Regions from separate parts of the Homo sapiens genome. Here regions 2, 3, 4, 5 and 6 are each linked to region 1. Evidence: fine-mapped expression QTL. A gene starts in region 1. Each other region holds a variant in brackets. All regions are shown on one strand. Distances are from middle to middle. Region 1 holds the start of PHACTR1 (phosphatase and actin regulator 1). Region 2 holds the start of LOC105374933 (a long non-coding RNA gene). Region 3 overlaps PHACTR1 (phosphatase and actin regulator 1). Region 4 overlaps PHACTR1 (phosphatase and actin regulator 1). Region 5 overlaps PHACTR1 (phosphatase and actin regulator 1). Region 6 overlaps PHACTR1 (phosphatase and actin regulator 1).

Region 1 (4,086 bases):
CTCCTGTTCAGCCTCCCAAGTAGCTGGAATTACAGGTACCCAACACCATGCCTGGCTAATTTTTTATATTTTTAGTAGAGATGGGGTTTCACCATGTTGGCCAGGCTGGTCTTGAACTCCTAACCTCAGGTGATCCACCCACCTTGACTTCCCATAGTGCTGGGATTACAGACATGAGCCTCTGTGCCCGGCCCCAAATACATTTCTTTAAGTTGAAATTTTCCCTCCTGAGTTTTCTTAAATTACGACCCTTTCATATTATTTGTTCACTTTGTAAAGTATTTTAAATTTCTCTTTCTTGGTCAACTCTCCAGAAATGACTGACTTCCAAATCCACCACCTACCCCCTGGGAATCAACTCTATTTTTCACATTTCCAGTTTAGCATCTCTTTCTTCAATCACACATTCATTTGCACTCACCTAAAGGTTTGGTCAGCAGCATAGACTTATACTCTCTCTCTCTCTCTTTCTCTCATCTATGAGTCATTACAATTTCAGTAGAATTACAATAACGAGTTCAGAACCTGTCGCCCACACCTCACAGTAAGTAAAAGGAACCAGAAGACAGCTTTCTCCTCTTATAAATGTCAAGTGTTCAGCATGTCTCCAGTGGGTGCTGAATAGAAAAGTAACCTTAAAGAAGTCAGTCCTTGGGTTGGAGCAAAGCTTTCAGAATTCAGAGTCCATAGTTGACTTTCCTACAAGGGCATATGATTGGTAGTTTCAGCTTCCTTTTTCATGAGGCTTAACTGTCTGCAGCACCGGCTTGGTGTCTGATCTGTTCTGATCGGGTGGGAGAGGGAGACCCCACAAAACAAACAGCAGAGGATTTTCAGGTTTGTTTCAAGGGCAGCCAGCCGAGCTGTGTATAGGGAGTGGGGGGACAGGGGTGGTGTTGATGGTCTTCCTTCCGAGGCTTATCAAATGTAAATGCTCTTTTCTTAACAAGCTGACCCACTGTACACCACACCATACTAATGAGCAATTCTGCTTGGTCAACAAAGGGTGCAAGAGGTTGTGGAAAACCCACAGTAGGGCTTGCATTTGGCTATCACTATGCCCTGCATGAAGATCTCAAAGTACTGTGCCTAAAAGTCATTACTGAGGTTTGGTAGGAAGAATATTAAACCAGAATAACTTGAGATACTAGCCAAAGTTTATTTTTGTTGTTGGTATTATTTTGTTACATTCAGACAGAGAGAAATGCATTTAGGCAGACTGGCATGATCTGCGCTGGATATTTGACCAGGCAATCAGAAGCAAGGAAAGGAAGAAAGCCAGGCAAGAGGGAAGGGGTGACATCAAACGTGCCCTCTGTATTTCGCTCCAGAAAACAGCTCACAATTATGACTACCTGCCTTGTTTTGCAGCTCAGCATAAAAGTGGTGTTGCACCAAACCCTACTGGAGCAGCCTTCATGATTAGAAAGTACTCCACACCTTGGAGAGCTGAGGAGACATGAGAATAATTTTAAATGCAAATTAAATTGAGGGGGTAGCAGAGAAGAACACATAAAAGACAGTAAAACAAAACCTTTCAATTTTCTTAAATTAGCAGTCTAATGTGTTCTAAAGAGCAGCTCCACTCAGATCTCTTCTTAAGGGTTGCATTTCATCACAGTATAAATGGGCAAATCCATCACTTCCCTCTGCTCAGTGCTCTTGAAGCGAGATTGAAGGGAAAATTAGAAGCTGTTCATTTGTGCTTGCGGGCTCAGAAGCGTCGCACTGCTTTGTTTTGTACTCTACCGTGTCCTGTTGAAAGGGGTCAACAAGTGCCGGTGAGTATCCGCTAACTTCCAGACTCTTCCTTTCAAATATCTTTTTGGCTAATTTTCCTTTGCCGGGGATGGGGGTTGTGGGGGGAGTGGGGATCTCCCACAAAATCTATGCTATAATATGTCTTTCAGAATCTGGGAAATTTCAGACAGCTTTTTAAGCTTCTTCCAGTGACTGATTTGCAGAAGGGAAGAGTTATTTTCAGCCTAGATGCCGGTGGCTGTTCTGTGTATTAATTATAACAGGGGAATGTCTAACGTATGTTAAGCTAAAATGGCCTTTCCCTAAACTCCCCCATTCCCTGCCACTCTTAGGCCAGCATTAGGGTAATAACTGGTGCCCCCACAAAAATTTCTAGACAACTTTTCTATATATTAAATTTTTAATCATTTCATATTCTATTCTTTTGTAGCTGCAAATCAAACTAAGATTTGGGATTATGAAAATAAACAATGAAGACATAAATCTGTTTTGTTTTTTTTTTAATGACTATGGCACTTCTCTGCCTAAGAGATAGGGGGCTGGGGAATAGCCCTGCATGATGTATGCATGTGGATTTGATGATTTTCTGCCAAAGTTTTACACGGGAAACTGGTAATTTTCTCCCTTCGCAGGGGAGGGTGCAGAGGCTGAGGCTGGCGTCACCTTCCGTTGCTAAGGTAACGTGCTCTGGCCATTTTATCTGATAAAGGAAGTCCAGTGGACTGTATGCATTATTCATCACTGTTCTAATCAAACAATCAAAATCGTTTACTTTCACCGGGAATATTTAGCAAGATCAAAGACACTCTGGCTGGAACGGCTCTTGTTTTACCGCTGACAGATAGCCTTTGATTTTTATTTTTTGCAGTAAGTATATTTGCTATTGGGGTACCTTTGGGTATTTTTAAAAGTTTTGTCTTACCGGACTTGGTTTCTTAAATTAAAATACATACTGTTAGAAAGAGAAACCAATTGGATTAGACTTCCAAGCTTGGTTTTAATGACTTTGTCTTGTTAATTCTTTCCAAAAAAATATTCTGCAGAAATAGAGATAATTCATTTGTGTGAGTATCAGGGAAAGGCTACATAGGCTTGAAAAAAGAACCCAACAGGCTGAATGTTTTCTGGGGAAGTATATTAGCTTTGTGACAGGCTAGTGTATGATAATATAGGGATCACTGTAATGCTGCAATCATTCTTGCTGCTCTACAAACCACAATTGTTTCTCAAAAATCAGCCCCTGCCAGGCACAGGCAGGTGACGATCCTCTAGCACTTTATAAAATGTGCTGAAGGGAATCGCCGGAAAGGAAGGAATTCAAAGCATTTGTACAGCAAATATGTCAGTGTGTGTCATAAACGCACGGCATCTATGAGTGGAGGCTCGGATTCCCAGGCAATTTTCCCTGCTCCAGGGGAATCCGAAAGTCCCAGGATGAGCTGAGGATCAACACTCACAACGGCTGACACTTAATGACGCTATTTATCAAATAGACCTTTTGAAAACTGATAGCATGTGAATTTAACAGTATATGTTCCAGAGAATATAAAGCAAGGAAAGGCTGGTATGTTATCTCTCTTTAGATCAGATCATCTGTTTTTCCTGAGTAGAATATATTACTTTTAATGAATGTTGGCTAAATGCGGCATTTTCTCACACGGTAGGAAAGCTATGCTGGGGGGTGGCTTTAGAATTGCAAATGTCAATCAAGTAGTAGAATATTATAATGGGATATTCTTATTCAAACATTTTAAAGTACATCTATATATACACTTTATACTTGACGTCTAAAATATTGTGGATTTTTTTTTCCTCTTTATAGGTGTTCCAGTGTTTTCTCTCAAAACTCTGTGTTTGGAACATCAAGGATGGATTATCCCAAAATGGATTATTTTCTGGATGTAGAGTCTGCTCACAGACTCTTGGATGTTGAGTCAGCTCAAAGATTCTTCTACAGTCAAGGAGCTCAAGGTAATAAAATAAGAAAAAGAAATTCCTCTTATTTGCACGTCGGTTTTATATGAACAGCCATGTAGGCTGTAGCTGTTAAAGCCTTGCTCTGAAAGTTTAATAACCGGTATTTCTAAGTTGATAACCTCTACCAAACTGCTGCTGGAATTGAGGCAGGTATATAATAGAATAAATAAATCCACACTTCTTGGATGTGGTTAAAAAAATGCCCAACTTTTGGTGTAAGTGCCCCTCAGAAAGCTATGTTAGAAATGATTTCCTACCACCTGTGTCCAACACTTATGTCCAAAAAGAATCAAGAATGCTCTTCCCCTTGGAGAATTTCCAGTTTGCAGCCACAGCTCTTGAAATCTT
Region 2 (4,086 bases), 510 kb after region 1:
AGTAAGAGGAGAGGGTAAATGTCCTCTAAATGCCCTCCTTAAATTCCCTCCTAGCTCTAAAAATTACTGCCACCTCCTACCTCTTTAAGTGGCTTCTTTGTTGCTTCTCTTAGGATGCAACTTCTCCCCCACCCAAAAAAAACTTTAAGAAGTTTAAAACTCTGTCCCTGTCTAGCAAACACTCAAATACTACTCACTGTGTATGCAACAAATTCACTTTTTAAGCATACCTCAGCAACTTTAGAAGGCCTCAATTTAAATTTCTTATTTATGACCTTTAAATGTGCTAAGAGACAAGAGAAGAAATGAAGAAAGCAAAGTTCAAAACCTATCACTCTGGCCATGAACAGTAAATAAATTTTAGTTACGTGAGTACAGCCTGATATTTGGCCAACTTTTTAATAAATGAACTTATGAGAATAGCAACCATGCATTGAACATGTACTGTGTGCCTGACAATGGGCTACGGTTTTAATCTCTCACCTACATCTCACAACAACCCTGAGGCATGGACACTATTGCCTCATTTTACAGATAAGGGCAGAAAATGGAGAGACAAGGCGCTGGCCCAGGGCCTCACGTCTGCTAAGGGGCAACGCTGGGGTTTGATGCGGGCTCTGTCACATTCTGAAGCTCATGTTCTAAAACTAGTGGAGGAAGAAAGAAGAAAAGCACTACTCAATCAAGCCCAAAGCCATCCTCAGACTTGTTGCCTGCTGGCGTTTTCTCTCGCTCTCTACTTACCAGGCTTCAAATAGCTGGCTCCAAGTAAGACCTGGTGAGCTATGAAGGGATCCAAGTGATGTCAAGGAAAGAACCACACAGGGCAGCCAGAGACCTCAATGATCCATGAATGGAAGGAGCAGCTGCTCAGCCCCTGTTTGCTGTTCAGTATCCAGAGAATTAAATGTTTTATACAGAGGTTTCTCAACCTCAGCACTCCCGGCATTTGGGACCAGATAATTCTTTGGTGTGGGGCCGTCCTGTACACTGTGGGATGTTTACAGGCATCCCTGGCCTCTGTCCGCTAGATGCCAGTAGCACCCTCTGCCTGCCACCTTAGTTTTGACAACCAAAAAATGCCTTGGGATTTTGCCAGGTGTTCCCTGGGGAGCAAAATCACCACTGGTTGAGAACCACTGATTTATATCAGATGTAGGGAAGCCCTGCCTCAGCTGCTCAGAAATGCTGGGGTTGAAAAGAAAAAACCCATCCCAGGATATTGCGTGTTTCAAAGCCCTCACCTCCACTCCCACCCCCAACCAGCCCCACTTTGTCCGCCTACCTTTTTTCTCCTTCACGTCCCCCCAGCTCCAGTGTAGTTGATCTTTTCTGTCTCTTGAGATTTCCTGGTGTAGCCTTCACCGCTGAACTTCTGCAGACACAGATCCCCGCCCACCTGCTGCCTGTTGGACTCTCATCTCTGCTTCAGGTGTCAGCCCCTCCTCCTCGTGAAACTTCCCCTAGTTGCTAAAAGCCTCTGTCCTATCTCCCCCTTTGCAGTCCACTGCACCCCACAGCCAGTCCTGCCCTCCTTTGTGATGTTGCCTGCGTGCTAGACATTCCTGGAGAGCAGAGACCCAATCACAGGTTCCCCATGTGCTGTCCATGTGCCCCACACAGTGCTAGGGGTAGAGTGTGTGGCAATGGCAGGAACTCTAGGAACTGAGGCATTAACCACTTTCAGGTGTTAAAACCTTGATGACTTCCTTCCTGC[C/T]TTGTATCTTATGACCCAGGGTTGGCCCTGTGGGAGCCCAGGCAGATATGTAAGCCTTAATTGACTCATTTCTGTCTCCTACAGGCTCCCTGGCCATGAAGGTCTGCAGGAAGGACTCCTTAGCCATCAAACTCAGCAACAGGCCCTCCAAGCGAGAGCTGGAAGAAAAGAACATCCTTCCCAGGCAGACGGATGAGGAGCGGCTGGAGCTGAGGCAACAGATTGGCACCAAGCTCACCAGGTAGGACAGCGGCACCCTCTGCCTCCCTGGCAGTGGGCCTTTAGCTCTCCAGGTTCTAGCAAAAGAATTCAGTCTCGGCCGGGCGCAGTAGCTTATGCCTGTAATCCCAGCACTTTGGGAGGCCGAGGCAGGTGGATCACATGAGGTCAGGAGTTCAAGACCAGCCTGGCCAACATGGTGAAACCCCATCTCTACTAAAAATGCAAAAATTAGTCAGGCATGGTGGCCTGTAGTCCCAGCTACTCGGGAGGCTGAGGCAGGAGGATTGCTTGAATCTGGGAGGTGTAGGTTCCAGTGAGCCGAGATCACACCATTGCACCCCAGCCTGTGTGACAGAGCAAGACTCTGTCTCAAAAAAAAAAAAAAAAAAAAAGGAAGAGACAATGGAAAACATCCCATTTTGTCTCCAAGGTTGTTTCTATAGTGCCCTCTCCTTTATTTATCCAAATCTTGGAAAATTCACTTGATTCAAGGTTCAGGGAGAAATTGAGAGGCAGGTTTCCAGGGAGAATAATCATCTGTAGAAAAGCCTCCATCATCTGGCCAGGCACGGTGGCTCACACCGGTAGTCCTAATACATTGGGTGGCCAAAGTGGGCAGACTGTTTGAGCCCAGGAGTTTGAGGCCAGCCTGAGCAACAAAGTAAAACCCCATCTCTACATAAAATCAAAAATTAGCGAGATGTGGTGGCACATGCCTGTGGTCCCGGCTACATGGGAGGTTAAGGCAAGAGGATGGCTTGAGCACAGGAGGTCAAGGCTGCAGTGAGCCATTATTGTGCCACTGCACTCCAGCCCAGGTGACAGAGAGAGAGAGAGAGAGAAGGAAAGAAAGAAAGAGAGAGAGAGAGAAAGGAAGGAAGGAAGGAAGGAAGGAAGGAAGGAAGGAAGGAAGAAGGAAGGAAGGGAAAAGAAAGAAGGAAAGAGAGAAAGAAAGAAGGAAAGAGAAAGAAAGAAGGAAAGAGAAAGAGCGAAAGAGGAGGAGGGAGGGAGGGAGGAAGGAAAGAAGGAAGGAAGGAAGGGAAAAGAAAGAAGGAAAGAGAGAAAGAAAGAAGGAAAGAGAAAGAAAGAAGGAAAGAGAAAGAAGGAAAGAGAAAGAGAGAGCGAAAGAGAAGGAGGGAGGGAGGAAGGAAAGAAGGAAGGAAGGAAGGGGAAAGAAAGAAGGAAAGAGAGAAAGAAAGAAGGAAAGAGAAAGAAAGAAGGAAAGAGAAAGAAGGAAAGAGAAAGAGAGAGCGAAAGAGAAGGAGGGAGGGAGGAAGGAAAGAAGGAAGGAAGGAAGGAAGGAAAGAAGGAAGGAAGGAAGAACAGCCTCCATCATGTAATAGAATTGAGGACCTATGGAGAGATAAGGTGTGGTTTGATTAAGCACAAAGCAATCAGACAAACACACTCTCTGATATACGGTTAAGTGGTTGGTAGTGATGCTTCATTACTCCACTGGGACTCATTTTGAGTGATTGCCCTTTATGTATGGATATTACAGACATGGGCATAGCTTTATGTTATATTAAGATATTAACCACCCATGTATGTATTTGTAATCAAGGGCATGTTTATGTGACATTAGGTAACCTTTGTTGAGTACTTACTATTTGCCACCATTCTCTAAACATTTTATATGTATTACATTGTTTGTCTTTGAGCCTGTCTATAAGATACACCATTTGTATACCCATTTTACAGATGAGAATACCAGGCATAGAGAACTTTGGTTACTTTGCATAATGTCACACAGCACAGCTCTGGAATTCTCTCTCTTGAGCCCTTACTTTGTACCAGACACTGTTGTGAGTGCCTGGACATAATGTGTGGAAGTCTACCAGGGCTTAATTCTGATTCTCCCTCTTACTAGGTGTATAGCCTTAAGTAAGTCACTTATTCTCCTTACCTGTGTTTCTGCATATGTAAAAGAGTGAGTTGTGAAAATTAAGCAAGTTAATAGAAGTATTTAAAACAGTATCTGGCCCATAGCAAGCAATCAGTTACCTGTTTTCACCATCACCTTTGCATTGTACAAGTGAGAAAGGTGGTGCCTAGAGGTTATGTAGACATAGGCATCATCCAACAGTATGCCAGTATTCTTCCCTCCCACCTGATTTATTTTGCTACCTAAGAGCAGCTTCTTTTTC
Region 3 (4,086 bases), 490 kb after region 1:
AGGAAAGCGGGTCTTCATTTGCCGCTTGAGGGGCAAATGCAATTTTTATTATCAAGGAACAGGAAGGCATTTCAGGAGGTGAGTACAGCAAAGGCCCTGAAGAGAGAAGGAGCGTGGTTATCGGGAAATCCAGAGGCCAGAGTGGACGAGAGAGATGTAAGTGGGAGACTCATAGTAGAGTCCAGACAGAGTCATACTTGGACTTGCAGCATGGACTGAGCATGGAGCCATCATGGACCTCACGCATGCCCAGCAGGTGCTGTAGGGAGATAGATATCTGGTACAGAGTGGGGACAGATCAGAGGGCTGGGACCGCATTATCCACACGATAAGAGGAGATGAGTGTCTAGACTGGTGTAGTGGTCAAGAAGCCAGAGAATACAGAAGTCTGAGTGGGAAAAGGGAGATTAAAAGCTTAGATGGAAGTTCAGAATGACAGATAATATGCAGCTGGTTCCAAATCGTGCCTCTAGTTATGTTATGGGGAATGACTTGGTGTTAAGATGTTGTAAAAATATACAAATAGGCATTGCCACTCTAACAAAGACATGAGCTGCCCAGCCTCTCCTCAGTTATCCACAATTTTAGGGAAAGATAGAGACTGCATGGCTAATTCACAGAAAGCAAGTAATTCTACCTGATTTTAGCCCTTTTCTTACTTTTGTTCATTTTTATGAAATCCACTGAGCCAAAAATGATTTTAAATGATTTGCTTTTATTCGCTGCCCTTTAATTCATAGCTATGTGCATCACAATGACCAGAAAGGAGATGCAGCAGGAAAGAAGGAGGGGGGTTCCCCAAGGCCCCAGCATGCCTTTCCTGGAACAGTAAGAACAACCGTCTCCACTAACTTGGTCCAGCTGGCCTTTTCTTCCTTGCCTGTTTCCATAGAATTGCTGGGGCTCACTTGGCCAATTTTCTAGTGATGAAACCAAGTAGGTTTTGCTATGGAAGAAGTCACAAGAAGTGGTGGAATGTTACGAGAAGCTATTGATTAACAAGATGGGCAGAACTCAATATAATCACTGCTCCTTCCTAGGCAGAGAATTCCACTCTGCCCTCCTGGTTCTTTCTCCTGACCAAGCAAATGAGCACCTACTTGCCTTAGAGAATCAGAGTCTTCAAATGAAGGACTATGGGTTAAGGGTCCTGGAGCAAAATCCTTAACACCTCAGGACATACTGCATTTGCTAGGTTTGCACTGAAGCTTTTTTTTTTTTTTTTTTGAGACAGAGTTTCACTCGCCCAGGCTATAGTGCAATGGTGCAATCTCAGCTCACTGCAAAGTCCACCTCTTGGGTTTAAGTGATTCTCCTGCCTCAGCCTCCCAAGTAGCTGGGATTACAGGCACCTGCCACCACACCCAGCTAATTTTGTATTTTTAGTAGAGACGGGGTTTCACCATGTTGGTCAGGCTGGTCTTGAACTCCTGACCTCAAGTAATCCACCTGCCTCGGCCTCGAAAAGTGCTGGGATTACAGGCGTGGGCCACCGCGCCCGCCTGCACTGAAGCTTCTAAGAGCTATGTAAGTGGACCCTTCAGTAAGATGAGCTGGACAATGGTGTTGAGTTTTTCCGTGTCTCAGCACTTTGGAACTAGCTAGCCTGCCTGTTAAGTTCCTGAATGTGGTGACCTTGCACCATGTGCATGAGGGGTCACAATGAACAGGACAAGCCCTCAGGAATGAACATGCGGAAGCCTGTGGTTATGACTGGTTTGCATTCTGGTGTTGGGGAGCAATCTTATCAGGCCCCCTGAAATGATTAGAATTTTCTGTGTCTCAGCGGTAGGATCAGAAGTTTAGTGTCCATATGCCACAACTGCGTGATCCTAAAATTGTAATCTGTTTCAGGCTCACATCTCCCTCCTAGAGTATCTATTTCTGGGGAAGGTGTGAATTCATCCCACAGCAGATCATCATAACTTTGGCTCATTCTGTAAACATGATTTGCATCTCTTGTGATGTGAGCTGGTCACTGAACAAGATGCTGAGGTTTGAGGTACAATAATAAATTACACACTGTCACTCTTCTCCGGGAGAGGAGACAGTTATGTAAACAGGA[A/G]GTGCAGCATAGTGTCTTCAGAGACCCTGTTTCATCATCTGTAAACATGAGATAATAATGGCATCTACCTCAGACTTGTTGTAAGGATTAAACCGGTTAGAATACAAAGAGCCCTTAGAACAGTATCTGGCACATAGTAAGCATGATAGAAGTCTTGATTATCATGACTGTCGTCATTCCTGCTATCATCATTAACACGATTAACACGGACATAATATGCATCCACGTTCCCACTCTCTTTCCACAGAGTGGGAAGAGGGATGTAATGATCAAGGAAGGCTTTTCAGGGGTGATTGTTTGTGAGGTGGATCTTGAAGGGCGACTAGTAATTGACCAAGAAGACAAAACAGAGGAGAATATTCTAAACTGAGGGAAAGTGACATGCAAAAGCCTAGGGTTATGGGAACATCAGGCAGTTTAGGAAACTCAGCAGTTCAGGAGTGAGGGTGGATGGTCTGGGTAATGGTGAGAAAAGTGGGCTGGAACTAAATGGGAGGTGGGGAAGCCGTGAGTGCTCCTCTTCAGTTCCTCACTGGGATAGGGAGAGGCATCTGTGGAAGGTGAGGATCCTGGAGGAGGCTGGGGAAGACTGCAGCAGCTCTTGGGAGAATGGCCAAGGCCACCTGGTCAACTTTGTTGAGCATGGAGACCCTGAATCCATGGGCCACCAAATAAGTAGAATCCACAGGAGAAGTGATCTGGGCCATAGGAGAGATTCTGCTCCAGCTTTTCAGGTGCCATAGGTAAGGTTATTTCCAACTGGGGGAACCAGAGCAGACTTTATAGAGGTACAATGTGGACATGAAGAGATGAACCAAGCAGGAGCCAGCCCATGGAAGGCCTTGAATGATGTATCAGGAAGGTTTAGTCCATGGATGGGTTTTAAACTGGGGAGCTACGTAATCAGATTTGTGCTCTAGGAATGTCATTTTGGCAGGACTGTAAGTTAGACTGGAGGAAGGCCACGTTCAAGGCAGATAGATCATTAGAGAAGAATCTATGGCCTCCGAGATGGAGAGTCAGAACTGCGTGGTGCTCCCCAACACGGGGTGCCAGTGGGGCATTGAGACTCCCTACTCCTCCCTGCTGTGCTGTTCCAGACCATGCTTCTCCCAGGCAAGCCTACAACCCACAGGGTTCAACCAGGTTCCCCTCCAGAAATGTGGGGTATGGCAGCAGGCTACATCTTCCCAGAAATGCCCTGGGGTCTAGTCTGACCCTGAGCCCCTCAAATGTGGAGCATCTCTAGGAAGCTCAATGGCATTGTCATGGAACCCAGCAGTTGGTCCTAGGTAGGTTCCAGCAGCCTGGAATCCCCTGTGGGAGCCTCCTTACTGTTTCAGTAGCCCACACTTGAGTGGGCCCACCAGTCCAGCAGTCACTCTCACTCCTGCCCCACTCGTGCACCCAAGCCAGGATCTGCAAAAACTAATCTTCACAAAGCATCCTCTCAAAGCAGGATGGTCGTCCCTAGGTGATGGAAGAGGGAATTAAGGTTGGCAGCAGTAAAGGCACTTGCAGAGTGGCATGCTGTTGGTGGACTTGACCCTAGGGCTGGCTTTAAATCCCATGCCTGTTGGGAAGTTCCAGCTTTGAAAGGATCTGTTCACATCATAATGGCAAAATTGTAGACATATATTGTAGACTAGCATGTCTTGGTCTGTTTTGTGTTGCTGTAACAATACCTGAGGCCAGGTAATTTGTGAAGAAAAGAGATTTCTTTAGCTCACAGTTCTGCAGACTGGGAAGTATGAGAAACATGGTGCTTCTGGTGAGGGCCTCTGGCTGCTTCCACCTATGGAGGAAAGCAGAAGGGGAGCTGGTGTGTGCAGAGAGCACATGGCAAGAGAGGAAGCAAAGGAGAGAAACTGAGGAACCCAGACTCTTCTTAACAACCCACTCTTCCTTGGGAACTAGTCCGTTCCTGGGAGAGCTCGAACTCGCTCACACCCACCACTAATCTATTCATGAGGGATCCACACCCGTGACCCAAATGCCTCCCACTAGGCCCCACCTGTTAA
Region 4 (4,086 bases), 560 kb after region 1:
GAGACAGGCTTTAGCCTCAAGGGAGGGAGAGAGAGGCAAGAGGCCACAGTCCCCAAGTTAGGAGGCCACAAGGAAAGAAAAGGACTTCTGTGAAGAAAAGAGTCCCGTCTGAGTTGCAGTCCACTTGCCTGGGGCCACTGGAGGAGATGGGGCTGGGGAGGGGCCGCTGCAGGGAGGAGGGCGGGGGTCAGCGGCTGTGACATGACGCACGTGCCTCTCCTGGGCTTGAAATTGAGGAACTGAGGAGGCGGTGGTGGCGAGAGTCAGTCTTTCAGAGCACAGGATGGAACAAGAACTCCAGCCACTGACTGTCTCATGTATCTGCAAGGGCCGAGGAAATTAATGACCCAAGGAGGCTATGATATGGTCCAAAAACTTTTCCTGGATTTTTTCCGTAGGCGGCTGAGCCAGAGGCCAACTGCAGAGGAACTGGAACAGAGGAACATTTTGAAACGTAAGTGACTAAGCCCATGGCAATCCCTGATGTTTTGTGGCGGCTTTTGTTATTATTTAATGGTAGGCCACAAGGTTTCTACCTTGCGCCTCTGCGGAAAGCATTGAAAACCTTTCTAACGGTTGAAGCTTCATGTGTGCATGTTAGAACACCAAAGACGACCTCCCCAAAGAGAAGGCAAATTTTATTCCACTTTATTCTTTAGAAGCTCACGGGCGGCAGGCAGAACCTTCCTTTTAGTGAGTTGTAAAGTCAGAGAGAAGCTGAAAAATTAGAGTGAGACCACTTATTATTTAATGATTTTTAAGAGCAGGGTCACCTTTAAACCAGAATTGGCTTGAAAATGGAGACTGTGATATGCACGGCTAAAATAAGGGAAATGTCCATTTGAACTGAGACTAGAAAGCATGACTTTGCATTGCAGCTGGCTGCTGTTGATAAAAATCCCTCATCCCTTTGAATGTTAAATTGAAAGACTAAGAAAGCATTTCCAAGTGAAGTGCTTCATGTCTGTCTCTCAGGATTCCCACAGCTGGTCCCGGGCATGCCTGTCTGATGCTCTCATTCGAGGAAAACTGCCTTTCACCATTGCTGCAGACAGAAAAAAATAAATGAGCCCCTTGTTTGGTTTAGGACACAGAGACATTTGAATATGTACAGAGGATCCACTTGGTGCTTTAAAAAAAAAAAGAGAAAACAGGATACAAAATACTAAAAGAGATCAAGCATTTGATGGACAGCAGTATGCGTCAGTTTAGTGGTAGATATTAAATAACTTAAATATCAAACCATTCTATTCATTCATTGCTACCATTCTCGCCAACACTGGCCTCAAGATAGTGAACAAATATTTCTGGCTTAATTCATGACCCTGTTCCCCCTACCCCACAACACACTTCTAATTTCTCTCCAGAAGAGAAAGATATATACTATGCAGAGTTTTCTAGAAATGCTATGTTGTACAGACTGACTCCTTGCCTCCCCCGGCCCCCCCGCCCCGCCCCGCCCCGTGCCCAGTAAATCACATGCAACCGCAGTGTGAGTTTGCCGGGAATTTCCACTGAAACCACACTAAGATATTCTTGACTTTACCTTTCTACCGTGCTCACTGTGGCCTTGTGACTTGGTCGGCATTTCGTAGTCTGCTGAAGGTGGGTGCTGGGTTCCGCTTTGGTGGGGAGACCTGTTGCCTACAGCACCCACCCCCGCCCGACGCCCCCGCATGTCCGTTTATGTCAACTCTGCCTTTATC[A/G]ATGTCTTGCCTCCCGTCCCCACGCCAGCCGCCACTTCCTCAACTCTCAGTAGAAGTTATTTTCAGGATTAGCCTTCCTCAGTCGTGGGGGAACCCTACGCTTTGCCTAGGTCTCTAGGAATGTGTGTTTACTTTTTTCTGCCCAAGGGGTACCCTTTAAAGTTTCCAAGCTTAATATTCTATATAATGAATTCAGAGCTTTTTCAAAGCATTTCCAAGGTCAGGGAAGCATTTGGCTTGTAGGATGTCTTCCTTTCGGCCCCAATCTGGTACCTGAGCCATTATAAACTTCCCATTGTTGGAGAGAAAGATAAACAGCCAGGTGAACCTGTACAACTTACTCACAGCCCGCTGCTGTACTTGTGGCCTCTGACCTGAGACCTAAACTCAAAGAAGCTAAAAGCCTCCGGGGGATTATTTAGGTTTCAGAAAATAGTGCTTATCACACCAGGAGTACGGTTTCTGGAGAGATCTAAAATCCCCTAGCTCAGCTCTGGGCTCTCTCAAAGATATCAGATCCCCGCTGTGGCTTGTCCAGATCCCTGGGAGACTACAGGTCCTTTGAGCTTGGGTTTTTACCGCCATCAACCAGGGAACTTAGATTCAGGGGACCAAAAAGGAGTTGTGAAAGATTGTTCCCATGGTTCTCTTTTATTCTCTTCCCTAATCCCTCTTGTCCTGGCCACATAGTTGCAAATTAAAGAACTACTTGACCAATTCTAACAGGTTGGTCATTTCATAGTTTTGAAACTTTTCAGAAATCAACTTGTTTTCCCATAGGTTCTTATTTTTCCCTGTATTCTGGAACTATGTTCTCCTAAATATTTTTTTAAATTTAATCTATTGCGATTGTTAAACAAAAAAAATGTCTAGTGGTATAAGAAAACATCCTCCAATAGTTTGTTTTAAAACTGATTTTCTGAGCTTTCAGCCATTTGAGGAACTGCTCGGTGTTGGGTGGTGGGGAACAGGGCACAGAGATGCCATGGCTCAGCCCTGGAGCTTTGAGAGCCTTGGGTTGGTTTCCAGCCCCACCCTGCCTGGTCCTGGGAGCAGCCCCTGTTCTGTCCAGCAGCCAGTGAGGCCCTGTGCACCTCTGAGCACATAATGAACCCTCTGACGGTGGCAGCTGTAATGACGACATCGTAGGCCTTTCCTGGCCTGTCTTCCTAGTTGCCTAATGGGGTTGTCTTGGTACCTTCTGCCTGAAAATTCATGAACCTGGGTTGGTCAATGGCTTTGAACTAAAGGTATCAATTCTGTAGGTGGTAGCTTGTGGCCCCACCCCTCAGAGTGACCTAAGAAACGCACATAGGAGATGAAGGCTCCATGCTGTGTCAGCTGTGTCACAGGATGCCCGCCTTCACGGCTCTGAAGGGACCTGTAGGATCAGAAGTCTGAGGCTAGTAATGAGGAGGAGAGCCGGCCCCACACAAAACATGACCACAGGAAAAAACCTATCTGTGTAACCACTGAGCCAGGTAGGGTGTGACTGGCCACTTAACACCCCTGAGGCTTCAGATCCTCAGTTATAAACCAGGAGTGGTAGACGAGGTGGTCACTAGGTCCCCTCATGGCCCTAGTATTCTGTGCTTCTGTAAATTTTCACCGTGTGCCCTCTAGCTGTCCCTGGTGACCCAACATCCAGACCACCTTTTCTTCCATCCGTTTTCCCACCTGAGACATCGCAAAATGGGAGTTCCCTCCTTCTGGTTCTTGCTGTCTGCCTCCCCATTTAACTCTGCTAGATTAATTCATACTAAGATATTAATGGCTGACTAGTTTAATAGGTTTTATCCCACTGAAATTTGCATTTGTACAAATGTCACTGTCTGGGGGCTCCCTACTTCCGGGTGTTGCTGTCTGCCCCCCAGTTTATCTCTACTAGATTAATTCATACTGAGCTATTAATGGCTGACTAGTTTAATGGGCTTTTATTCAAGAGAAATTTGCATTAAAAAAAAAAAAAACCTCTCCGGGAGGGAGATAGGATCTCTAAATCCAAAGGAAAGCACACTCATGGTGACGGTTTCAGGCACTGTAGGGTAGGCTGGAGCAGGGACCTCTGGTGACCTCAGCCCACAGCAAGATGTGGCTGTTTCTTGTGCTGCCTTTCTACAAAGCCTTATGCCCACAGGCGGTTGGGGGGCCAAATCAGGCCCGTGGGGGTGGCCCTCAAGGGCCTGATTTCTGCTCTGACCTTACACCACTTGTGCTAGTGGGAGGTATAGTCACCTTGAGTGTAAAGGTGACACAGTTATCAGATGGTCCCCACCCCTTTCTAGGCACAGGGGGTTTCCTTCCTTTAAAGACCTGTCCCAAGGCCGGGCGCGGTGGCTCACGCCTATAATCCCAGCACTCTGGGAGGCTGAGGCGGGTG
Region 5 (4,086 bases), 570 kb after region 1:
TATACTGGAATAATGATTCTGCCCAATGTGTAGGTAACGATAGAAACTATGGAGTGTGTCAGGGGCCTTCTGCTCAACAGTCCTGCCTTCACTGTCCGTTTCAGGGACCCAGGGTTTTCTTATATGATACAGCAGGAAGTCATTTATGGCCCAGGCTGGCTACATTATCACCAACCCTGGATCCAGGAGGTGCAGGAAACATGTATGCAGGCACATTGCTGCACTTGGCTGGGACGGAAGCAGCAAGAGGCAGATAGACTTCCAGAGACGACCTCGCCTGTGGCGGGTCAACCCACAGACACCATGTGTGGAAGACTGTGCCCTCCTCTGTAAACACAGCATTCACATCTTCTCTGCAAGGGAATTTGTGGGAGCAACCCAGGAACTGGCATTGCCATGCCCCTGACAGACAAACCCAGCTCCCCAGGAGTGTGTCATCTAAATACGAAGAGGAAGGGGCTTTCACTCTTGTCCTCTCCTGTCCACACTCTCTCTGCGGTATGCTTGCAAGGATAAGGATATTAGCAAGTGTGCAAGAAAACCACAGACATCTCTACTTGCACCCTCATAGAGTTCTGAGTAGCTCTTAGGCCGAAAACATATCCAGTTTCTCAATGGCTGTTGGGGACAGAAGACAGGAAGCATGGGGTGACCCCTGCCCCCACCCCCAAAGCTGCTACCCAGGCACTTAAACCTAAGCCAGCCTTCTTTTCCTGGGGAGGGCCATTCTGATCCTACAGGAAGACTTTTCTCTCCTCAAACTCCTGGGGCCTTGATATTCCCATCAAAGCAAGTATCGGCCATAGACAGAGCTATGCAAGAAGGCACACGTTTGCAATTTCCACCCTTGAGGAAGGAGTGAGGTTGTCTCTGGCCCCAGCTGCCTTCTTTACCAGCCCCTCCTCCTCCCCTGCTCTCTCATGGCCTCTCTTTGCTGTCTGATTCCAGGCCCTGTGTCTTCAGTGGCAGTATTATAAGGATGGGGTGATTCGGGATCATCTCAGAACATGTGAGGTTATTCAAAATGTATCTCACATGGTGAAATACATCACTGAAGAGTCAGGGAAGTTGTAAAAGAGCAAAAACAAACTGTTGGTAGGGAGCTGGCCATCACCTGTCCCCCTAATTTGGTTGGAGAATTTGATCCACGCCTTCTGGAAGTCTCCACCTCGAGGCATCACTGTGCCTGTGCTGAGCTTTGTTTATTTATGGAAGATGAGAGGTTGACATTGAATGTGTTCTTGGGCCCCCAGGAGTGTGGGGTAGGTGTACACCACCACTGATGCCTCAATGCCACAGCTCTATGAAAAGAGGAAGAAAAACACACTTTGGGCAATAGCCTGTCATCATTTGCAACTTAGATTTAGGGAAGGAGGGGAATCTTTGTTTTAAAGGACATCTCAGGTGATTTTTCTTCCTCCCAATGAAAGAATCCATCTTAAACTTGTTTGTCTTTGTTGAAGAAGAAAAATATGTTGTTAGGAATGAACTGAAAGGGGAGTTTTTTTCTGTCTCTCTCCCATTGCACATTGATGGGCTTCTGTTGATTCCAGGCTGCCATCCGAAAGGAGCTCAATGAATTCAAAAGCACTGAGATGGAAGTTCATGAATTGAGTAGACACTTAACAAGGTTAGTATTAAGGGTTTTTTTTTTCCTTTTTTTCCCTCAAGTTGCAATATTTATCTCCAAAT[A/G]AAGCTCTCCCACTTGTGGGACATGAGTGGGTTGGAGGGTGCCATGAGAGGGAAGATAGTAGGAAGGCAGGCATGCGGTTCCACTTTAGGTTACTGAAACGAGGAAGTGGAACACAGATGGCCCGGGCTAAAACCAACTTTCTGCAAAGTCTGAGTTTCACTCATTTAAACTAAAGGTCTGATAAGCACCAGACTACCAACGACCCCAAGGTGGGTTTTTGTGAAAACTTAGGTCAAGGAGAAAAGATTGTTGCCAATTTGCAACCAGTCAGCAGAGGCCAAACCTGAACAAAATACCACATCCACACGGGACTTCCAAAGTGGACCACTTCTGTTATTCCCTGACATTCTCCCTGACAGTCCAGCATCATGATGATATTTGGGAAAACCGAGGCATGGAGTGATTAAGAGGATTATATAAGGTTGCATTGCTAGTTAGCAACAGAGCCATTGATTTAATTCTGACTTTCTTTTGGGGGGAACATTTAGAGAAATAGGATATAGCAAGTATTTAGTCTAGAGACTCAGAGACACAGATTGGGTTCTGCACCTTGCTGCTGGATCCAGGCTGATGGCAGGAGGTGGAGGCCACCAGGGCTGCCCCAGATGAAACTTTCAAAGCCAGGTGTGTGTTCAGTGGTACTCCTGTGGGGATGACGGTGGGAAGCTCGCACCTCCCTCTCACGGTCAAGAACCTCCCTGAAGATGGGAGATTGGACTGTTGAATCCTGCACCTTTGGCAGCCCCTTGGTCTTGATGTAATTGTTTGTTTCCTTAGGTTTCACCGACCTTAACAGTCGAATTCCTCTTGAGTGCTATGCTGTCTTCAAAACATAAATTTATAAGAACCATAAGTGCTGGTATTTATTCACTTCCCCATTACGATGTAAATCTTCTGAACTGCCTTTTTTTTAAAAAGAAGAAAAATCAAGGAAACACAATCAGGATTTTATGTGTGAAAACGCAAAAGTGATGGCTCGGCGGTCCGAGCTGCTGGTCCCACTTCTGACACCAAAATGCATCCCAACCCCCGGCAGTGCCAAGGGCACCAGCAGGGCCCTGACTGAAGACTGTCTGGCAGGTGGAACGGTCCTTGTCCTCTCCAGCCAGGCCCAGCAGGCACTACCTTCATGAAGTCTCCAGCAAACCTCTTCCTCACAAGTGTCTGTCATCTGAGTCCAAAGAAAGCTGAAGGGGTGGGTTTGTTTTGGGGGTACTGTGCAAAGCTAATGATCTGGTTGGACTTCTACACTTGGCCAAATGTACTGGCTCCAGACATGACATTTGGTTTGGGGGCCCTTTGAAGTTGATGCCAAGAAGGAGTGAACACTTCTCAGTTGCCCCTGGCTTTTCCCTCCTTTCAGCCACCACCCACACAATGAACAAAAGGGAAGGGCCCATTTCTGGGGGAGTCTGGCTGCCTCTTGGCTACGAAGGCTGGCACTGAGCACCCATCCTGCTCCCTCTGCCTGAGCTGAGCTGCCTTTCAGGAAGCTCTGGTTTAGAAGGGGAAAGATGTCATATGCTCAGTTCAAATAATCAACCCAACTGTGTCCAGAGTGTCCAGTGTCATGAGTGACCCACGCACACACACAGCCATTGCTAAGGTACTCCTGTGCTGTTTATAAGTCTGAGTGGGAGGACCCTATTGAATCCTGTGGGGTCAGAAACTGCTTGGCTGACATTTATTTTCTCTGTGCGCCTTGAAGCTGATTATATGGCTTGGGAGTTCTTAGCTTCTGTGTATAGGACCAGTGCATGCAGGCCAGAAACCACTCCTGTAGGACTGGCTTTCCAGCCACTGAGGGACTTGGAACCACTCCATGGCCTTCTCTTTTTTTTTTTTTTTTTTTTTTTTTTTTTTTTTTTTGCACTGAAGAGTTTCTGTGAAGGAGCCCCAGAGTTGGGCATGTGCCAGAATCAGGCCAACACCAGCCACACCTGTCCACAGTGCCCCTTCCTGCTCCAGTTGATCCAGAGAGCTCCTCCCTCTACCCTCATGATGCCAGGGAGCGTGACTGTGGGTGTGTCTCTGACTGGGACACCCAGGATAGGGTGTGCGATGAGGCCAGGACCCTCCTAAACCCTAACAGCATCCTAACGAGGCCCATTGCAGCTTTCGATTTCCTTCATAACAGAGCTCGCAGGCCCTCAGTTGCAGAGCTCTCTCACCTTCTGGAGTGACTCCATCGTTACTCCAGTCTTTCTAGGTGGTGGAACTCTCCACCACACATGCCATTTAGAAAGACGCCAGCTTGGCCTTTCCAAAAAGTTAACCAGTCGTCTCCCCACCACAAACCCTGTGGGAGCAGGTTACTCTTAGGATGCACACCCGTCAACGAGGCCATTGCATTTTTTTGCAGGCATGAACGGCTCCCATCTAGGCACTAACCC
Region 6 (4,086 bases), 560 kb after region 1:
CTAAATGTTTTGTTTTACAAAATTCACTATAATCCCATTAAGCAATGGGAAATTCATAATCAAAATCAGTAGTTCAAAGGCCAGGTTCAGTGGTTCATGCCTATAAACCCAGCACTTTGGGAGGCCAAGGTGAGTGGATAGCTTGAAGCCAGGAGTTCGAGACCAGCCTGGGCAACATGGTAAAATGCTGTCTTTGTCAAAGTAAATATACAAAAACTAGCTGTGCATGGTGATGTGCACCTGTAGTCCCAGATACATGGGAGTCTGAGGTTGGAGAATTGCTTGAGCCCAGGAGGCAGAGGTTGCAGTGAGCCGAGATCGCGCCACTGCACTCCAGCCTGGGCAACAGAGCAAGACTCTGTCTCAAAAAAAAAAAAAAATTACTAGTTCGAATATTACACAATTATTTGCTATGACCCTGGGAAAGTATAGACTTTTTTTTTTTTTTTGCTCCCCCTGACACTATTCTTTCCCTAGGAATTAAGAACTATGCAACTTTATTAGGCTAAATTACGAAAGTACTGACAAATTTAAAGCAGATGTTTGAGAAGCACATAGCTTAAAGTCATAAAACTGGAATTTTAATATAGTCTTAACCCCAAAAATAGATGGTTTGGCAATGCACTGTAGCCTCGCATGCATCTCATTCCACATGAGTGTCCTCTTTAATAATAAACGCATTGTTAAGGCTATTCTTGGATGATGCTGAAAAGTTTAATTAATTGATGACATGCAAGATACAATACTCCCTTCTGTCTGACGAAGTCAAAGTGTTTTTAATCAGCCTCCTACAGTGACCATCTTGAGAGAAAGATACTCTCATATCTTAGCTACAGTTAAGAGGCCCATTAATATTAATTTTAAAAAGGTTTATTAGTGGATTTTTCTCTCCAGAAATATCACACAAAGGAAGAAATTCAGAGATCCTGAAATATCATACCAATTATTAAGGTGATGGTTTGTATTTCTCCACACTTTCCCTGCGAGCATCCCAAATACCTGGTGACAAGCCAAATGCCAACCCAATTAGCAAGAGCTGGACAAACAAGTGCCTGAATGGCCAGACGACTGGCTGGGGTCACCCTGGTGGAGACTAGAGCAAGAGCTAAGTGACTTCACCAGCCAGTCGCTGTCCCACCCGTCAAGGTTGGACCCTTTACATCCTTAAGCCCACCCACTCTTTGGATGCAGGGTGCAGTTTTTCCTGAGCTTGAGTAGTGAGAAGAGCAGGAGAGATGCATTAGCTTTTTCTCATCGTGTCCTTGAAATGACTGGGGCTCGAAAAAGACACTGTGATAAACTTTCATTTCTGATACAGAAAGGTCTAGACACTTAGAAAAAAAAAAAGTTGTTTAAATCAGATTTTCATCAAATTTTTCAGAATTGGTTGCTGGATCCCCAAAATTCACCCAGTTTTAAGGTTGCTTGCTAAAAGACGGTCACAGAGAAATACTTAGACATTTATTTAATTCCTATCTCTTAACAAAGTTGATATGATTTTGCGGAGAACTTGACTAACTGCATGATTTGGTAATGAGCGAGTAAAGAGTCTTCCTTTCCACACCCATCTCCCTAGGGTAGGTGACACTAGGGATGGGGACCCCAAATAGTTCATAGGTTTTGCGGGTCTCCACAATCAAATAATTGCCTCTCTGTTCCTGCTCACCTCTCCTTTCTTCTCCCAGGGAAATGGCCTTGGAATTTTAGCATTTGCCCTCCCCTGGGACTGGCTGGGGGGGTTAGAAATAAGGAGCTTGAGAGGGGATAACTGCTTCTAAGAGAGAGACTGGAGAACAGAGGGGCAACTTCCATATCTGCTTTTGCGGGCAGAGATGT[G/T]GCGCCTTCCGGCAGGTAGGGAACCTACATCATCACTTCCTGGCCCTGTGAAGGTTCTTCTCCTCTTGAGCATTTATCACACTGAGACCAGATGCCAGTGATGGGGGCTGCTTTACAGTGATCTGCCTTCAGCCCAATAACTTCTTCAATAAAATTCTATTTAACTGTAATGCACTAGTAAGAAAAATAAAAAATAAAGCGTAGTAACTGAGGCTGATAGCAACAGACCAGTCATTTTCTCTGACCAAACTGAGACTAATATAAAAATTACATGCTTTGTCTTTTTAAAAAAGACATGCCTGCGGCCAGGCGCAGTGGCTCACGCCTGTAATCCCAGCACTTTGGGAGGCCGAGGCGGGCCTGACTTTGGCTGCAAAGATTATTTTTGCAGCATTCAAGGAAGGACTTCAGGTTCCAGATGCCCCGAAGGCTACAGCCAGCACCAGGCCAAAGGTGCGTCTTCTGAGCCTTTCGTGGTCAGGGACATGAGCCCATGCACACAGAGGAGCGTCCTGGTGGCCGTTTGTTAGTGCTGGGGTCCGTGCACCAACTGTGACTCTGAGAGGCAGCAGCCAGCTGCATCCTCGCTCATTCCCTCTGAGCACTTGTGCTCTATGCTGTCTTGATTTGGAAAGACGGTGTCCAAGGCCCCGCGATGTTCAGGCATAAGAAACAGCCCCTGACCTGCAGCATTTATGCTTAGTCTTCGGTTCACTCCAGACTCTGCCATAGATAGGACATTAGTAAAATCCAGGTCAGTTTCCAGGAAGAGAAATTTGAAAGTCAGGGCTTAACAACTTTTCTCACATCATGGGTGCACTCAGAAAATAACCCTTTGGGCCGGGCTCGGTGGCTCATATCTGTAATCCCAGCACTTTGGGAGGCTGAGAACGGCGGATCATTTGAGATCAGGAGTTCGAGAGCAGTCTGGGCAATATGGCGAAACCCTATCTCTATTAAAAATACAAAAATTAGCCGGACAAGGTGGCGCATACCTGTAATCCCAGCTACTCGGGAGGCTGAGGCAGGAGAGTTACTTGCACCCAAGAGGCGGAGGTTGCAGTGAGCCGAGATCATTGCACCATTGAACTCCAGCCTGGGCAACAGAGTGAGACTCCGTCTAAAAAAAGAAAAATGAAGAAAAGAAAATAACACTTTGTCTGGCCCCTTGAGGTAAACCCAGCAAGTCCTGAGGAACACAGACAGGATTCTGAGTAGGAGTCTGTTTATCTGGAGTAAATATGGCAAATGTTGCATGTCTTTATGTATTTTAATTATAGCACAAAATCTCCCTGCACTCACATTGTGGAGAACATGTTTTGGAGTCAGGATGACTGCTGTTTTTGTTTACGGTGACCACAGCCATAACAGCCTGGGAAGCCTGTGGGTTCCCGCGACAGGCCCACACTGGTGCCAGAATGTTGTCGTGCCTAAGAAAGCCAAGGGAGGCCTACATGCAGTCTAGGCAGGGGGGCCGGCACCAGAGGCGGCTGAGCCCCTGATCCCCAGAGCTTCCTGCCTTTGGCTGAGAGGGAGCTGTAGGCCTGCCTTGGCCCTGTCCGGGGTGTGCCACCACTCTATTTGATACCTGCCAGCCATCCTCTAATTGTGCTCTGCCAGCGTGGGAGCAAGTTGGAACATTCTCGCACTAGCCACGGGTGTCTGGAAGCTGCCTGTTGCAGAGTCGAAACTGCCAGGGTGGTTTGGACTCCATTGTGTTTGTTTTACGGGCCTGAGTTGCAAGATTCTATGAGATAGTGTCTTCTAGTAATAGAATTACACAGAGTCTAGGGCTCAAAGGGAAAACTGCTTTTAAATAGCATTGATTGAACATCATTTGACAGCATCTTAAAGAGAGCAACTGTGTTGCTCCAGGAGAAATAAACCTGGTGACAGGAAGAGATAATAGAAATGTCAGCCTTATGTTGCTAAAGTAGAGGAAGGGTCTTCATGGCTAATATCGGGAGATGGCAAAATACATACGAATCTTCCTTTTACTTGCTTCATCCCTCATTCCTGCAGTCCTTCATCATGCACCATCCAAAGGGCTGGTCCTGAGTCTCCCTTGGCATAAATGTGGCCTTTTTCTGTACTTACTCAACTCCGCATTTGTTGACTGACCTTCCCCTTGAACTTCTTGCAGAGGGCCGTCAGCAATGTTTGGGCTGACCTCTTCAGCCAGCAGATTCCCATCCCTGCATACCCCAGAGTTTGCATACCATTTGCACATACGCTTTTTTGCATCTAAAA

Evidence for each region.
Region 2: its variant is fine-mapped to the expression of PHACTR1 in whole blood (TOPMed, PIP above 0.99).
Region 3: its variant is fine-mapped to the expression of PHACTR1 in whole blood (INTERVAL, PIP above 0.99).
Region 4: its variant is fine-mapped to the expression of PHACTR1 in whole blood (TOPMed, PIP above 0.99).
Region 5: its variant is fine-mapped to the expression of PHACTR1 in whole blood (TOPMed, PIP above 0.99).
Region 6: its variant is fine-mapped to the expression of PHACTR1 in whole blood (TOPMed, PIP above 0.99).

Annotation. Positions count from the first base shown.
Region 1 is chr6:12,715,116-12,719,201 of GRCh38, forward strand. PHACTR1 (phosphatase and actin regulator 1) reads left to right here and starts at 1,652. Exons shown (of 15, transcript NM_030948.6): 1 at 1,652-1,781; 2 at 2,394-2,628; 3 at 3,584-3,732. The coding sequence starts at 3,630. All of the region lies in intron 1 of LOC107984015 (a long non-coding RNA gene), which reads right to left.
Region 2 is chr6:13,228,236-13,232,321 of GRCh38, forward strand. It overlaps PHACTR1 (phosphatase and actin regulator 1), which reads left to right. Exons shown (of 15, transcript NM_030948.6): 10 at 1,802-1,958. It overlaps LOC105374933 (a long non-coding RNA gene), which reads right to left and starts at 1,738. Exons shown (of 4, transcript XR_007059456.1): 1 at 1,286-1,738; 2 at 1-884. RefSeq lists an enhancer at 1,037-1,096 and a silencer at 1,267-1,356. The variant C/T (reference allele first, on the strand shown) is at 1,718.
Region 3 is chr6:13,201,273-13,205,358 of GRCh38, forward strand. The region is part of intron 7 of PHACTR1 (phosphatase and actin regulator 1); the gene reads left to right. Among named protein-coding and RNA genes, the nearest start is that of TBC1D7, 130 kb to the right of the region's middle. The variant A/G (reference allele first, on the strand shown) is at 2,066.
Region 4 is chr6:13,272,462-13,276,547 of GRCh38, forward strand. It overlaps PHACTR1 (phosphatase and actin regulator 1), which reads left to right. Exons shown (of 15, transcript NM_030948.6): 11 at 399-454. All of the region lies in intron 8 of TBC1D7-LOC100130357 (TBC1D7-LOC100130357 readthrough), which reads right to left. It also overlaps a transcript of LOC100130357 not described here. Among named protein-coding and RNA genes, the nearest start is that of TBC1D7, 54 kb to the right of the region's middle. RefSeq lists enhancers at 19-118, 830-2,029. The variant A/G (reference allele first, on the strand shown) is at 1,707.
Region 5 is chr6:13,284,593-13,288,678 of GRCh38, forward strand. It overlaps PHACTR1 (phosphatase and actin regulator 1), which reads left to right. Exons shown (of 15, transcript NM_030948.6): 14 at 1,554-1,630; 15 at 2,471-3,245. The coding sequence ends at 2,486. All of the region lies in intron 8 of TBC1D7-LOC100130357 (TBC1D7-LOC100130357 readthrough), which reads right to left. The region is part of intron 3 of LOC100130357 (a long non-coding RNA gene); the gene reads right to left. Among named protein-coding and RNA genes, the nearest start is that of TBC1D7, 42 kb to the right of the region's middle. The variant A/G (reference allele first, on the strand shown) is at 1,693.
Region 6 is chr6:13,278,598-13,282,683 of GRCh38, forward strand. All of the region lies in intron 12 of PHACTR1 (phosphatase and actin regulator 1), which reads left to right. The region is part of intron 8 of TBC1D7-LOC100130357 (TBC1D7-LOC100130357 readthrough); the gene reads right to left. It overlaps LOC100130357 (a long non-coding RNA gene), which reads right to left. Exons shown (of 5, transcript NR_160971.1): 4 at 2,832-2,956; 5 at 560-2,559. Among named protein-coding and RNA genes, the nearest start is that of TBC1D7, 48 kb to the right of the region's middle. The variant G/T (reference allele first, on the strand shown) is at 1,837.